Linked DNA regions of Homo sapiens: region 1 is linked to region 2. Evidence: fine-mapped expression QTL. A gene starts in region 2. The other region holds a variant in brackets. All regions are shown on one strand. Distances are between the middles of the regions.

Region 1 (8,526 bases), 120 kb before region 2:
GAAAATTGAACCCGAAAAACAAGTTTATCAGCATCATTGAAACAAAAAGCAATATACATTCAATCATAGTGTCACTTTAACATGGCTGAATTTTCAGATACTCTGATTTCCTGTTGGAGTTTTAGTACAACTAAGTAAGGGGTAGATATGGAATCTGTTCCATTTATCAAGTACTGTGTAACAAACTATCCCCAAACATAGCGGCGAAAAACAACAAAAACACTTATTTTGCTCTTGAATCTGCAATTCAGGCAGGGCTTGACAAGGAAAGCTTGTCTCTGCTCTGCTCACTGTCAGCCGGGACAGTTCAAAGGCAGGGGGCTAAAATTATCTGAAGCTCAGTCATTCACATGCCCAGGGATTCACACTGACTTTTGGCTAGGACCTGAGCTAGGCTTGTCTGCCGGACAGCTACGCGTGGCCTCACGATGTGACCTCACAACATGGAAGCACCATGTGCTTCCTCACAACATGGCGGCTGGATTTCAATGATGAGTGTCCTAAGAGAGAGAGGACAGCAGCTGTATCACTGTTTGTGACCTGTCTCAAGAGCCATGTAGCCTCACTTCCATTGCCATCTATTCATCGAGATGACCACAAAGGCCCACCTGAATTCAATGGAATGGCAAAATAGATCCTACCTCTTGCTGGGCATAGTGGCAAGGTACAGAAGAGCATGTGGGACTAGAAATAGTGCAGTGTCCCTTTTTGGAAAATACAATTGGCCTCAGAATCCACGGTGCAGGATTGCCCCAGAAAGCCATATGAATTATTCTTTATGGAAGTTGGACACTCTAAAGAGCAGATGACCTTTGCCACCATGATATGATGTCCCACCCCTCTCTAATGCCAACCTTCCATCTGTCCCAGGAAGGGCTGTCTTCTCACAGTAGGTGTTGGGTATTTCTGCCTCCCCTTTTGGCTTCTGCCCAACCATACCCTCACCCCATGCCTCCTCTAGCTGCTCTAGTTCACAATATTCTCTCTCTTCTCTGAACTTTTACTTCCTGTAGCACCGACAGAGCCTTGATATACTTCCTCCTCTCATGAGTTAATTTCCTTGTGTGCCTGTTTGCCTCAAAACCAGATAATAGGCCCTTGGCCCCTCTCCCTGTGTCATGCACAGAGTGGGCATTCAGTGAATGGTTCTTGATTTGATTATACATTCATGACGTCACCGTAAAGTTAGTCTCCCTGGGCTACATATCAACATGGAAGAAAACTGCAGCCCCCTGACCTATTAGAAGGATGTGACATCTCACGGGAGTGCTCAGTTGCCCTTCAAAGACAGGAAAATAAATGTCAGATTTGGTTTTGTTTATCTGATCTTCATGCAATCACGGTTTCGTACCTCTGGGGGTGGAAAGAATTGGACTGTTTCATAATTGTTTAGAGGTAAGCATAAAATGCACTAAGGCATTGAACTCTGGGTGTGGTGAGAAAGAGAGAAGATGGGAAGGGTGAGAATTCATGGAATCTGGTTGGGTGCTCCTCATTTAGTGCCTTTGTGTGGGAGAAGAGCAGATAGATGGTGGGAGGGTGAAAGGAAGGGCTACTTCAAGTTGCTCCAAAAACTGGGAGTGGGTGGGAATTAAGTCTCTATCAGGTCAAGTTAATACTGGTTAGAATTAGCAAAGTGACTGAGAGTGAGCCTTGGGGTTTATTTTTTGGAAGGAGTCTAAAAGTCCTTCCCACAAAGCACTCCAGCTCCATCTAATGCAATGCCTCTGATTTGTCATAGGCAATTTCTATGAACTTACGCTGTTTTCCCAGTGGACTGGAGTTTATGTATCTCTCTTAATCTGCACAGCCCAGTGGGGAGAGAATCTGTGTTTGTTCCCCTCCCATCTCCTTGCTTACAATTCCTGCTCCCAGCTGGCTTCAGGAACACCCTTGGCAGAGGGGGTAGTGGACCCTCCCTCCATCCCCAAAAACTTAAAGAATGTGCCTTGATTAGAAGCACAAAGCAGATCTCAAGATGTGCTCAGCAGCTGTGGACACCCTGGAGATAAAAAGGAGAGGGGGCCGGTGCCTGTAATGCCAGCACTTTGGGAGGCCGAGGCAGGAAGATCACTTGAGGTCAGGAGTTCGAGACCAGCCTGGCCAACATGGCGAAACCCCATCTCTGCTAAAAATACAAAAAATTAGCCAGGCGTGGTAGTGAGCACCTATAATCCCAGCTACTTGGGAGGCTGAGGCATGAGAATCGCTTGTACCTGGGAGGAAGAGGTTGCAGTGAGCTGAGATTGCACTACTGCTCTCCAGCCTGGGTGACAGAGTGAGACTCTGTCTCAAAAAAAAAAAAAAAAAAAAAAGAGAGAGAGATAGAGAATGTAGAGGAATGGAACCATTATATTACATATCCAAAAAGGGAACAATCCACTTTTTGGTTTAGAACATGACATGTTGTCTTCATGCCAAGCCATCCTTTCCAAATTGTGTTCTATTAATTTAATCTTATGATTACTTTGTATTGATTGTCTAAAGCCCTCACCAATTTGCGACAGTAAAATGCACCCTGGAAGGATGTTAGGTTTAGGAGAGATGCAAGTTGATACCACCGGCCACTGGCCACCAGGTCTCCATTCACAGATAACAGACTTTTGTTTCCATTATCAGTTGACAAATAACAGCTATGTGATTGACTGGGTGAAAAATAAATTTACTGTAGCGTGTTAGTTGCACCATTTCACTCCCTTTATATTTTTAAAGCAAAGATTAAAGTTCAAAAAGAAGCCTCATTTGGTGTTTTTCACGTCTGATGGTAAACTACCTGAGGACAGAGACAGTTGGTTTCCTGGGAGAAAACCCCATGGCTTATCACCAAACAGCGTGCAAACAGTAGGTGCATGGGTGGGGAGGCCTCAATAGTGTCACATACAAAGAAAGGAGTGAAAGCCTGACATAAATTCTCTTCCTTATCCAAAAAGCAAAGCTATCCTATGCAGAGGAAAATGGAGCTGAAACAAGTATGTCTCTTTCCTTCTTTGTATCCCACGACTGTAACCACAGGTATGGCTCTTAGGACCTGTGGAGTCATTCACTGTCCAAAGGCCACGTAGGCTCATTCCTTGTTAGAATAAGGTTGCCTGTGCAGACGGCTGGTCCTGTGTGCAGGCATCTGGGCTCACGTCTCCCAGGAGGGGAGGATGGGGCTGCCGTTGCTGTTGCCATGGCCCCGTGCAGTGTTTCCATAACACAGCCGGCCCACATCCCAAGCAGGCCTGCTTGGACAGTTTGCCCTGCATGATGCGAGACAGGCTGGAGAGGGATCAAGGAC[C/A]CTTTGGGATTGGAATTCTGGGTTTTGCGTGTGAGAGTTTAACTGGCTAAGACCAGGCCAGTACATGAGCGCAGGCCCAAGATCCGAAAGGGAAAGTCCTGAACGCCCCCTTCCCCCTGTCTTTTCGGCGGGGCTTTGGGAGTTTGCAGGGTGTTCTGAGTGTTTGGGCCTCAGGGATTCTCACCTCCGGGAGATTCCAGGAGCTGTAGGGGGTGGAATGCGAGTAGGAGGAGAGGTGAGTAATGACTGGTGGACCCGCATGGGCTAACTCTTACGGTTCAAGGGTTCAGGAAGAGATTTGCAAACGTCTCTACTCTACTTTGTCTACAAAAGAACACCAAGGAATTCAGAAACTTAATTTGAAGTGGAGTTTTTGGGGATTTTTTACTTCTTGGCAGTGGTAGGCTACCCACCATCTGGGACCTGTATGTGTCATTGAAAAGAAGGTCCCCTCTGGCATGAGTGGAGTGCGGTAGGCGTGGCCTGGAATCCCTGGGTGGCCTGACAGCCCATTTTAATCAGCAATTCTACTGGAGTTCCAGTGACCCAGGGAACAAAGTTCACCACTGCTCCTTACTCAGAACTGGTGATAACGTTGACAGGGCTGATGGGAATCCTCCTGCTGGCTGCAAACTCCACCTGCAGCAGAGACGGGGCTTCTAGGGAGACAGGGTCAGTGTGAGTGAGTGCTGCTGGGTTTGCCAGGCTGCTGGAGTGGGTGTACTACTCCTCAGTGTGCAGGGGGCATCCTCTGCCCCAAACCGACCCCATCTCATCTTCCCTTGCTGATTCCTCCTGGCTGCTTCCATGATCCGTCCTACTTCCCAAAACAGAGAGGATATCTAAATATCATTTTTCAACTTCCCCAGCTGGTAAATGATGAAATTATTATATACTTGCCTTTCTTATCTTTCTACCAAACAGTAGGTTCCTTGAAGACAGACGTCATTATCATTCCTGCTTATGTTCATGTCCCCTAATTAACAGGCTTTGTGCTTACCTAACAAGTATGTGGCACGTATCTGTTTAAATAGCATAAAACAAATATCTCAGTGTTTGCAGTAGTGGACATATACCAGTAAAGTGTCAAGGGTGCCATTTCAGAATCCCTTAATCTTCCAGCAACTTTTTGGTGACCACAAAGATGGTGTTTTGCCTGTGATGCCCCACTCTCCTAATATACTATATGGAATAATGACTTTCTATATCCGTAATCAATATTTACTTTGAATATCAGTAGGTTGAGTTAGTAGTTTGATTCTGGTCCCTTGTTTACTCTGATGCAATCCCCTGTAAGAAGGACCTGACAAAGTGCCTGGTGAATGGGGTTCAGTACATGCCAGTACCTTTTCTTTCCCTGCTAATGCGAACTTAGCAATAAGCACTCACAGAAGTGAGAGTCTAGAGCCTTGGTTATTGGCTGTGACTCTGCCATCACGCTTAGGTGATCATTAAGACATCATTTGGTAGTATCTTTCCTCTGGCAAGGGGAAGAGATGGCTGTTTTTGCATAGGGATAAGATATTATCTTTAAAGCACTTTGTGATCCCAGAAGAAAAGTGTACTCTAAGACCCTGGAGCACTACCCCATTTCTCTACTGTTATTAACAAAATAAATGTGTGTCTGGCACAAGGACTTACACTTAGCAGATAACTCCCAAACTATCAGTGTAGTGGTGCATTATTTTTTGGCCACTTGGTCTTTTTGGGCAAATGCCTAACTGTGGAGACTCCCCCCACTTTACCAGTCCTGCCTCCACGTGGGAGCTTTGGCGGGGTTTATTTCTTGGGGCCAAGTCTCAACAAGTTGAATAGGAAAGCTTGGCAGCCCTAAGCTTCTTCTTCATCTTCCCTGGGGCACGCTCCTATGAGCATGTTAGGAAAGAGATTTTTAGGACAGCATTTCAGTCTCGGTTCTTTGGTCTTTTTAGTTAAAGGTCCACGGCCCTGATTTTCAGACGGACATAGTTGTACCAGCTAGAGCTCATAGAGAAGAGAGATTTAGACATTTGCTACTCCAAGCACAGTCCACAGGCATCTGTGTGGGCCTCCCTTGGGGGAGTGTTGGAAATAGAGGATCTGAGACTCATGCCCCTCCCCCAACACCGGAATTGACCTGGCACCACATTCTCCAGGTGACTCACGAGCACTTGCACCTTTGAGAAGACTGATGGAGACAAATGCCCGGGAAGCCGTCTGCAGACCCTGGAAAGGGGGTGTGCACTTGACCCAATCAGAGGCAGTCGTTTGGCTCAGCATCACAGAAAACAGATGTATTAGTCCATTTTCACATTGCTGATAAAGACATGCCCAAGACGGGGAAGAAAAAGAGGTTTCATTGGACTTACAGTTCCACATAGCTGGGAAGGACTCAGAATCATGGTGGGAGGCGAAAGATATTTCATACATGGTGGCGGCAAGAGAAAATGAGGAAAATGCAAAAGTGGAAACCCCTGATAAACCCATCAGATCTCGTGAGACTTATCTGCCACCACAAGAACAGTATGGGTGAAACCACCCCCGTGATTCAAGTCATCTCCCACCAGGTCCCTCCCACAACATGTGGGAATTACGGGAGTACAATTCAAGATGAGATTAGGGTGGGGACACGAAGCCAGACCATATCAATGGAAAATTCCAGAAGGATATGGAAATAGGGTGTAGTTCCAATGCAAGTTTCACCATAGAAGCTACTAGGCTTCTTCAGCTGCAGATCTGGGGCAGATCAACCATCTAATTAGGCCCTGCCAAGAGGGTGCCTGGGAAGGAAGGCCGTGGCAGGCAGGAGGAAGAGGAAAGAGAGGGTGCAAATTATCTTCCTATAAATTTTCAAGTAACCTATATGCATTATAAGATTTCCAGGCACTACGTAAGAGCATAAAGTAAGCACCGGACATGAGAGTTGCCTTCCTCCGAGATTGTACTCATCATATGGAATTGATTAAGAGCACAGACTGCCATTGTTTGAACCCAGCTGTAGCACTCCCCAGCTGTGTGATCTCAGGCAAATTATGTAACTTCTCCCTGCCTCCATTTCCTCAGCTGAAGATAATAGCAGGGTTGTTGTGAGGGTTCAGCTTTGACGTGTGTAAAGCACTTTCACACCATGGCAGCCCGTCAGTCTTATGAGTTGGCTGTTCTCATTCTAATACTTTCATGATTTTCCACGTTTAAAACTTGGATCCATTTGGCATTTCAGTGTAAGGAGCAGGGTAAAGAATTACGGATGTGTCCCCCTCCTCCAGTGGTTAAATGGTTATCCAGTAATCCCAACATCATTTATCAACTAATCTCTCTTTCCACCTGTCTTATGGGTTGAATTGTGTCACCTAAAAATATGTGTTAATGTCCTTACCTCCAGTAACTCACAATGTGACCTTATTTTTATTTTATTTTTATTTTTATTTTTTTTGAGACACAGTCTCACTCTGTCATCCAGGCTGGAGTACAGTGGCATGTTCTTGGGTCACTGCAACCTCCCCCTCCTGGGTTCAAGAGATTCTCATGCCTCAGCCTCCCCAGTAGCTGGGACTACAGGCATGTACCACCACGCCCAGCTAATTTTTTAATATTTTTAGTAGAGATGGGGTTTCACCATGTTACCCAGGCTGGTCTTGAACTCCTGGCCTCAAGTGATCCACCTATCTCAGCCTCCCAACATGCTGGGATTATAGGCGTAAGCCACGGCACCCAGCTGGGAATGTGACCTTATTTAGAAATAGGGTGGTTAAAAATGTAATTAGTTGGCCGGGTGCGGTGGCTCACGCCTGTAATCCCAGCTACTCAAGAGGCTGAGGCAGGAGAATCGCTTGAACCCGGGCGGCAGAGGTTGCAGTGAACTGAGATTGTACCACTGCACTCCAGCCTGGGTGACAGAGTGAGACTTCATCTAAAAAAAAAAAAAAAGTAATTAGTTAACATGAGGTCATAATGGAGTAGGGTGGGCCCCTAATCCAAGATGACTGATGTCTTTTAAGAAAAAGAAAAAAACACAGGGAAAATAGCCAGGTTAAAAGAAAGGCAGAGACTGGAGCAATGTGGCCACAAGCCAGGGAATGCATGGGGCAACCAGGAGCTGGAGGAGGCAGGAAGGATCCTCTCTAGAGGCCTCGGAGAAAGCACAACCTTGCCAACACCTCGATTGCAGACTTCCGGCCTCCAGACTGTGAGATGATCAATTTCTGCTCTTTTCAGCCTCTGCGTTTGTGGTACTTTGTTTTGGCAGCCCTGGGAAGCTAATGTAACATAGGATGGATATGTTTTTTCTTGTTTGGGTCTGGTTGACTATTCCTCTGTTTTAATGATCTGTTTTAATGATCAATAAGTCCAGTTCAAATGTAGGAGACATTGAACCTTCCCATTATTCCCAATAGAAAATTTTTGAGATAAAATTAGACACTTTGATACCAAAAGTGCCAAATCAGGAACTGTGACTGGCCACTGTAAAAACTCATATTTTCCTGAAAGTCTGTGTCCATGAGGACCCTGGCAGCTCCACTTCCCACTCCACGGCCTCAGACACTGAGATGCTTTCCACCATGACACTCAGAGAAGGATGTAACGTCTCAGCTGCCACAGCTCTCATGAATTGTAGAGGTTTATAAAACTTAGTGGGATGCAGCTGCACTTATTAATAAGCGCTATCCATGGCTAGAACCAAAGACTGTGTTAGTGGAAGATGAAGTCTTCATTCCTTGGCTTATGACAACGTTAACTGTTTTTTAAGGACCACTGGTGGAAGTGGTGAAAGAAAGCACCAATGCCAGGTTCTATTTTACTTGAGTAAAGAAAATCAGATTAAAATAATGAGTGACAATCCAGGACCTCGGACGCTTCCTGGGGGGGCTGTCCACAGGGCCTCACTGTGAGGCCTCCTCAGTGGCATAAATAGGGCTGCATTTCATAGCAGCCAAGTGTCAGGAAATATGCTTTTAATTATCATTTAAGATGTAACCTGTCAGAGGTATTAGTATCACTTGTGTTTAATGAGAATTGATTTTCAGATTGCATTACCCAGGAAGCCCAGGATAATGGAAACCCCCAGTTCTTTCCTGAGACCTCAAGTCACCACCACATCGCTCTGTGCCAGTGCTCACCACATCAGCAGCCACCGGACATCTGATCTGCCCACATGCAGCCCAGGCAGAGGCCTGCTTAGCCTTAGAGTGATTGCTGATGAATGAGATTCCACAGAGCTGAGCCTGGCTCAGAGTTTTATTGCAAAGTGAGGGAATCCGAGGGAAAGC
Region 2 (8,000 bases):
GCCATGAGCTACAAATACAAATCACATTTAAATAAATTCAACTAAATTATAAAAGTGAACATGGCTTGCTGTTTGAAGGATTTGCTGAGAGCCCCAGCTTTGGTGTTCGGCACACCTACACTCCAATCCAGGCTTTGCACATAGTAGGTTGTTGCAGCTGTCACTTCTCAGAAAGGACTTCCTGGTTGTCCTTTGTCAAATAAGTACATTGAGACATTACAGCGGTAGTCAGAGACTTAACTAGGCTGTGCATAAATAGTAAAAGCAGCTAATATTACCTAAGTGTTTACTATATGCAAATGCTTTGCCTGAATTAACTCATTTAATCCTCGAACAACCATAAAAGCAGAACTGTTATTTTTATAAAAATTAAATTATTATTTACATGCTAATAAAACATAAGCTCCAGGACACCTCACTTGTGCAAGCCCCTAAAAATGCGTGATGTTTGTGGTGCCTGTCAGATTGTCAAAATGTGTAATTTGTTGTGCTTTCTTTATCTTTCTAAATAAATAGTCATTTTAGCACCTAATTTTGTAGTTATAATTTGATACTTTTTTCCTTCAAGAGGGTCCTGCAAATTGTATAAACTTTACTCTCCTCCCAAAGCCTAGATCCACCCCTGCCTATGTAGTAGGAATTATTAACAACTCTATATTGCAGATGATGAAACTGAGACCCAGAGAGGTTAAGTGACTTGCCCAGGTACACACAGGCAGTAAGTGATGGGGTCCAGATATGAGCCCAGGCAGTCCGGCACCACATGGAGTACTCAACCAGAATACATTATTGCCTCTTATTATTTTCACATAAAGCTCCTAGCAAACTCCCTGAGACATTGGGACATTACAGATACTCAATAACTGGTGGCTTTTACTATTTTGTCAATCTAAAACTGCTTTGATAATAATGGGAATATAACTCTATCTTTAAAGACACCATATAAATTTAAGCTAACAAAACAGATAAGTCTGTAGCAGACAGTTTTTATACAAGGGATTTTCTTTTAAATACTAATTTCCCAAAATATCCTTTAAAAATACTACTATTCAAAGTGTGCGGCTAGGCACAGTGGCTTATGCCTGTAATCCCAGCACTTTGGGAGGCCAGGGCAGGTGGATCACTTGAGCTCAGGAGTTTGAGACCAGCCTGGCCAACGTGATGTATTTTTGTCTCTATTAAAAATACAAAAATTAGCCAGGCATGGTGGAGTGCACCTGTAATCCCATCTGCTTGGGAGGCTGAGGCATGAGAATCACTTGAACCCAGGAGCCAGAGGTTGCAGAGAGCAGAGAGCCTGCCACTGCACTCCAGCCTGGGCGACACAGCGAGATTCCGTCTCAAAAAAAAAAAAAAAACTAAAATGTGTTCCATGGACCACCTGCATCAGAATCATCTGCGCCCCATCCCAAACCCAATGGATCTAAACCAATGGAAGTGGAACTCAGGAAGCTGAATGTTTAATGAACACCCCAAGTGACTTTTTCCACCCCAAGGGTGAAAACCACTGCTTTTAGGAGTCATTCCACTATGGGTTACTGAGTACCCACTGTCTACAGATGGGGTGAAGGGTGAGAGGTGAAGGAACTTGAATCTAAGGTGTTACTGGTATATTTCCAATTACAGGTGAATGACAAATAACTGCAATGCAAGTTAATAGTCATATTCAGCTATATTAAAATTTGCATAAGATTTGCATAGACTTACATTTTTCAAATTAAGTTTACATACAATTTTAAAGACCATAATGATTGAGAATAGAGTGCTCATTACATTCCCAGGTTCTGTTCTAAGATTTAAGTATATTAATTGTTTCACTTTTCAAAATCCTAAGTAATTGCATCATCCCCATACAGAGATAGAGGCTCACAAACGTTAAGTAACTCCTCAGTAAGTGCAGAGCCAAGATTTGAACCCAGAATTCTGGTGCTAAAGCCTATGCTCTCAAACCCTATATCACAAAAACTAAATATAAAAAAGAACGGATTAGGGATAAAAGGTAAAATTGCAAGTTCATAGAACTTTATACCTTGGATTTTTTTTCCTGATTTAGTCATTTTCAAGATAAATAAATATTGTGCTGGGTTGAAGACAGCATGAAATCACTAAAAGAGGTCAAGCCATGTTTTTTTATGACAGCAAGTCCATAGACTGTGAAGCCTACTTGAACTTGGTATATGCTAGAGTTTAAACAGCCTTCCTAGTTCAGACACAGAATCTTTGTTTCAGTCCATCCCACACTGTCCTGTCTCCACACCCCCAAAAAAGTTTCAAGATCTTTACCCTAAATTCCTTCACTCAGCATGTCAGCAGCATGAGTCTAAGACCATGGCCAGCATTAAGTGCTGACAGTGTTTTAAGCACTTGGGTGTCATAATGCATTCAGTCCTCACAACCCTATCATTTCTCCACATTTCACAGAAGAGGAATATAAGGCCGAAAGGCACTTGATCAGGGTCCCAGAGCTGATAAGTGACAGAATCAAGAATCAAGTGGTCCCAGACATCCTGGTACCAAGCCCATGCCTTCAGCCATCTACTAAAACATCTCCCAGTTATTGAGCGTCCACTGTATACCAGGTGCTTAACACAAATTAGCTGAGTCCTTGCAAGTTTGCTCAAAAAGAGCCGCATTCCCTGCCCTGACCAACGAGGACATGAAGGCTCTGAGAGATTAAAGGGCTTGCCCGGAACACACAACTAAAGCCCAGCCTGTCTCTGCATCCAAAGCCTGCACTTTTCCAACATCACTACGATGCCTCCTGGGATTTTATTAGCTACTCCCCCCCTAGAAGGAAGTATCATTACTACCACTTTACTGTTAAGCACATTCACAGGACAGAGAACATGAAGATAACTGTCTTCATATTTAGGCAGTTGGGCTTCAAAACTGCTCTTCAAAACAGGGGCTGGAAAAGGGAGAAAAGGTCCGCCTACTTGTATCTTCCTCCCACCGTGCACAAACACGCTGGAAGCTAAACGGCTTAAATATTTAAATGGCATGTGTGTGAAAGCACTTCTACTTTGTGACAGGGCCATGTTGCACATTAGCTCTCAATGCTATTTGTGTGAACCCGCTTCATACTTTTTAAAGACAAAAATGCTCTATTCATCATTTTATTGACATTTCATATTTGCAGGTTTTATTCGCCTGCGAGGTTAAGACATTTGAAACACAAATCCTGACAAACGCACAGACCAGCAACTCGAGGAACTCAGACGCTTTGGCTCTCGGTGCCACCTTTAAATGCTAAACCACCGGTAGGTAGTCGCTAAATGGGAAAGTCGTGTTCTCCCGGTTTTCAGGTGGGAAAAGCTGAGGCTCCCAGGAGTCTAGAACTCCTCTCATATTGCCTTTCTCCCTGGATCAACTGGGAATGATGATAACAGCAGACTGCCCCCCACGCGTGATAAGGAAAAAACCTTGTAATTATAATAACTTTTGGAGCTACCTCAGAAATTAACAACGACGAACAGAAATCTGCGCAATCAACAGGAGCCAAGAAGAAAAACTCGGCTCCGCAGGACAAGTCCCGGGCACAGTTCTGCAGGAAGCCTCAGGCCAGATCAGGCACCGCGGCTCACACAGAGGTGACGCACGAGTGACCCACAGAGAGGGACCCCTGGGCCTCTGGTGGGGGCCTGGGAGACGGTCGAAGGGGGCCCGGGCAGAAGCTCCGCGGCCGGGCCGGCGGAGGGAAGGGGGCGGCCGCGCCCGGGACCCGGCTCCCCTCGGCTCCACTTACCTGCTCCGAAGAGTGGCCCCAGCTCTGCGCCTCTTCCTGCGACCCCACACACAGGGACAGCCCCAGGCACAGCCCCAGCAGCAGGAGCATGGCGGGGCGAGGGCGCGGGACGCTCGGGGACCCGGCGGGACACGCTTTGCAGCGCCCAGGGCTCCAGCCACTGCGGGACGCTCTCGGGGCCGCCCACCCCGCGGTCCCAGCCCGGACCCCGCCCACCCCACGGACCCAGCCCGGACCCCGCCCACCCCGCGGTCCCAGCCCGGACCCCGCCCACCCCACGGACCCAGCCCGGACCCCGCCCACCCCACGGACCCAGCCCGGACCCCGCCCACCCTGCGGTCCCCTCCTGGACTCCGCCCACCCCACGGACCCAGCCCGGACCCCGCCCACCCCACGGACCCAGCCCGGACCCCGCCCACCCCGCGTCCCAGCCCGGACCCCGCCCACCCCACGGACCCAGCCCGGACCCCGCCCACCCTGCGTCCCCTCCTGGACTCCGCCTACCCCGGTCCCAGCCCGGACCCCTTCCACCCCGCGGTCCCCTTCTGGACTCCAACTCTCCCACCCCAGCCCAGACCCCACTTCCCCGCCCCAGACCTTCCCACACCCTGCCTCCCTGGACACCCCCCAAGCCCGGCCTCGCCTCCCTGTCCCCAGTCAGGACCCAGCTTCCCCAGGTCCCCAACCCCAAGCTCCGTTTCTCCACGCCCCCATTTCCCCCCACCTCCCCAGTCCCGGCCCCACCTCTCCTGTCCCTGTCCCCACCGAGGCCAACTTCCCAGACCCCACCTACAGCCACCCCCTTAAACCCGGCCCGCCTCCCTGTGGCCCCCACACCAGCCCCGCCTCCTCCCCAGTCCCCACCCCGCCCGGCGCCGCTTCCCGGCCTCAGTCCCACCAGAGCCGCGCCTCCAGCCCCCAGTGCTGGGCTAGCTCTGTTCGGGGAGAAGGCATTCCAAGCCTGCCTCGCCGCGCACAGCAGGGGCCACCTGTGTTGGCCCCACGGACCCCTCCCACACCCTCCCATCCTGCGGCTGTGACACTTAACCAAGGACCAGTCTCCTCTGTAGAGCCTCCTACTCCGTTTCTTGCCAACACCCACTGCCTCCCGGGCCCTACCCCACGCGCCCCCGCAACTCTTTCTTCCTCTCCCTCAAGGTGCAATATGCTTCTTTGCGGACTTGCTTAATTTCTGTCGCCAGAGGACGCGAGAAGGCCAGCCTGGTCCTCAGCACACAGCCCACCCCGCACCTGCCAGCCTGAAGCCGGCAGATCGTCCCCTCTGCATTGGCCAGGGACGCTTAATAGGCAGGACAAAGGATACTACCTGCAGTCTAGCGCAGGAGGGACTAGCAAGGCTGCCAGCCTTTATGTTCTAAGGAAACAGAGGAGACGAGGGAAGTATCTTGGTAGCGTGTAGTATTTCTGAGTTTCTGGTTATTAATCATGTAAGTGAGTGCCAGTATGTATCTTAGTTACAAACTATTGGTGATACTTCCATCCTGCCATTGGAAGAATTCTTACCCACCAGCCGTCCACACCTGGCCTTCTACAGGCTGAGTGCGTCTTTTTTATCTGGTGATACACATTGCAGTTGGGGCTACTTGTTTATTTCATGTTGCAAAGGATGTTTTTTATGTCTCTGTGATAATTTCATCTAAATAGGTGAGGTGAGTGACAGACCCTTTAAGGACCAAGAACAGGGAAGGGGCTAACTTCGGACCATGGAATAGAGAATACTATTCCATGCAGGTTACTATGGGGCCATTAAATAATCGTGCGACGTCTCCAGAAACATGGAGAATGTTGACAGTGTAATCTAAAGAGAAAATCACATCACCAAATCGTATCAACAGTATGATTGCAATTAGGTAGAAATACATATGGAGGGACATAACTAGAAAAAAAAAACATGAAAAATAAAAGCAGTGGGTAGGTTAGTTTGTGGTGAGATCCTCGAAAATATCTATTCTTGTTGAAATGCTCTTTGTTTAATGAATTAGGAGAGGTTAAAAACAAACACCTTGCTACTGTGAAATAAATGAAAGGAAAATTATTGTCATCAGCAGTTAATCCTTTAATAGCCTAACCACTAGTCAGCATGCAACCAATAAGAAACAACTGTAGCCGGTTATTTTTCCCTCCAGAGGAAAGTAACTATTTGTGAACCAGAAGTTGAATTGGACAAAGCCAGTTTATTTGCAATAGGGAACCATACAGCGGCCATTATTTCAACCCATGATTGCAACAGAACAGAGACTCCATCGTCTTTCCTTCCCTGCCATCCCTAACTTGAAATGCTGAAAGGGCCCATATTAAACTATTTTTGCCTTTATATCTGATCTCTTTTTTTTTCCCAAATTCATACTAACTGGGTTTTACAGCAGTCTAATGTTAAGAAAAGTGAGTTTTATTTTCATCTGGGAGGACCCTCTGATTCTACCCTAGACTGTGGTTCTAATGTGTTGTTTGTTTAATATAAAGCCAGTTTCTCCAACTGGATCTGTTCTTTGAGGACAAGCCTCTCCCCCAACTTCTAGAACTGTGCTAAATATATTGTTAGCACTTAAGGACCTTTTGATGAATGAGATTAGTAGATGGGAGGAATGAGTGTGGATGGTAGAGCCAGGCTGTGCCAGGGAGGTGGGGCTGGGCTATAGTGCAAACTTGACCGCTACCTAGCTGTATGACTTGACAGAGTTTCTGAACTTCCTATTATTTTCAAGCTGTAATAGTTCAGTATTCTATGTGACACCTGTGTATCTCTATGATGATCTTTAAAATCTAGGTAGGTGTGATAAAAATAAGACCTAGTGAAAGTTTTCCAAGACTGTCAACAAGCAAAGACAGTGATTTATATCAGCCTTATAAATAAGGGCCAAGGTGTCCCCACATACATTTGTCCTTTGATTCCATGTTTCTCATTTTACCTCCAGGAGGAGCTGAATTTCCAGTTACTGAACACATAAAATCTCAAAGCTAGAAAAGACCCTGCACGATGTCTAGCTCAATTCATTCACCAGGACCATGTGCCACGAGTGACAAATCACAGGGAAGGCCCCCGGGGTTCACGGACAGGATCTAGAGGCAGAGCTCAGCGACAAGGGACTCAGAGTCCAAGAATGAACAGGAGCTGTTTCTCCTGGGCCAGAGATGCTGCTCTGTCCACGCCACTTCTAGGAAATCATTCCCTCAAGTAACTGAATGATGGGCCAAAGTATTCCAGAATTGTCGAATCACACTTGTGAGAGTTATCCCTTTATCCTGGTCTCCTACTGGAGACTACCAATAGATGGGCCCAAAATCATGGTCAAAACAACCATGACTTAACGAGATTAACGAGTTGAAAGCAGGCTGCCTGTTTGTTTTCTTTTAAACCTCTCCCTTGATTTTACATCCTGACACCCCATAGCTCCTAAATCTAGCTATGGTTAGAGTTAAGCCACCACCCAGTTCTTTGGTCTCCACCTCCTCTCCCTCTCTCATCCTCCCTTCTGAGCCTCTGTAAGGCCATTGTTCTATTTGGGACAGCTCTTTCTCCCCATCCTTGGTCTACTCCTTTTTTATCTACTTATATGGCCTTGTGTGTTTCTCTTGGCCCCCTGACAACTGTGTAGAATCGCTACAGGTTTTTACAACCTTGGCTTTTTTTTTTTCTTGATTAGAGGGGACTACTAGGGAGGAAATGGGTTCCTTTTGACTTTGACTTGATGATTTCTCGGGAGCCCAGTTATAGCGTGTCAGGAGTCTAGTTATACCTACTTTTCATCTGCTTCACCAAACACTGAGTTTTGTCCACAGAGATTTGTGAAGGAAGAAATAGGGAATGCAGTTTTCTAATATATGATTGGTGATTGCTGAACTCAACTGTTCACAAAGTGTAACACTTACCATATTTTAATTATTGGCTTGCAGATTTGAGACCTAAATTAGACTCTGATTTCTTCATGGTCAAGGATTCTATCATTCTTGTTTTGACATCCTCAGGCTCTGACACATGGCCTGGAATAGAGTAGACGTGCTGTATGCTTGATGAATGAATGAAAAAATGTATATCTGCCATTATGTTACCCTGTGCTAGTTGTGTGTAATATGACAAGTTTTAGACAGACTCCGTGACCTTGAAGAAGTTACCATTTAGATATGAAGATGGAGCTAACAAAATGGACAAAATTTGAACTCAGTAGTGATTTCCTAAGAGGAGAAGGGACAAGATTGTGATTGTATTTGTGGTCTGGAAGGCTTCATGAAGGAC

Alleles and levels. Alleles are on the strand shown, and positions count from the first base shown. SD is a standard deviation of normalised expression in the study named.
In carriers of allele A in region 1, the expression in ovary of the gene that starts at base 3,909 in region 2 tends to be higher than with C alone (moderate effect, 0.46 SD a copy in GTEx).

What was found. PIP is the estimated chance that this variant, and not a neighbour inherited with it, causes the effect.
Region 1: its variant is fine-mapped to the expression of ITIH5 in ovary (GTEx, PIP above 0.99). The same link has a PIP of 0.9 or more in lung and testis.

Annotation. Positions count from the first base shown.
Region 1 is chr10:7,538,122-7,546,647 of GRCh38, forward strand. LOC105376391 (a long non-coding RNA gene) reads left to right here and starts at 3,278. Exons shown (of 2, transcript XR_930632.2): 1 at 3,278-3,515. RefSeq lists enhancers at 231-1,430, 3,368-4,227. The variant C/A (reference allele first, on the strand shown) is at 3,281.
Region 2 is chr10:7,663,058-7,671,057 of GRCh38, forward strand. It overlaps ITIH5 (inter-alpha-trypsin inhibitor heavy chain 5), which reads right to left and starts at 3,909. Exons shown (of 14, transcript NM_030569.7): 1 at 3,746-3,909. The coding sequence starts at 3,835.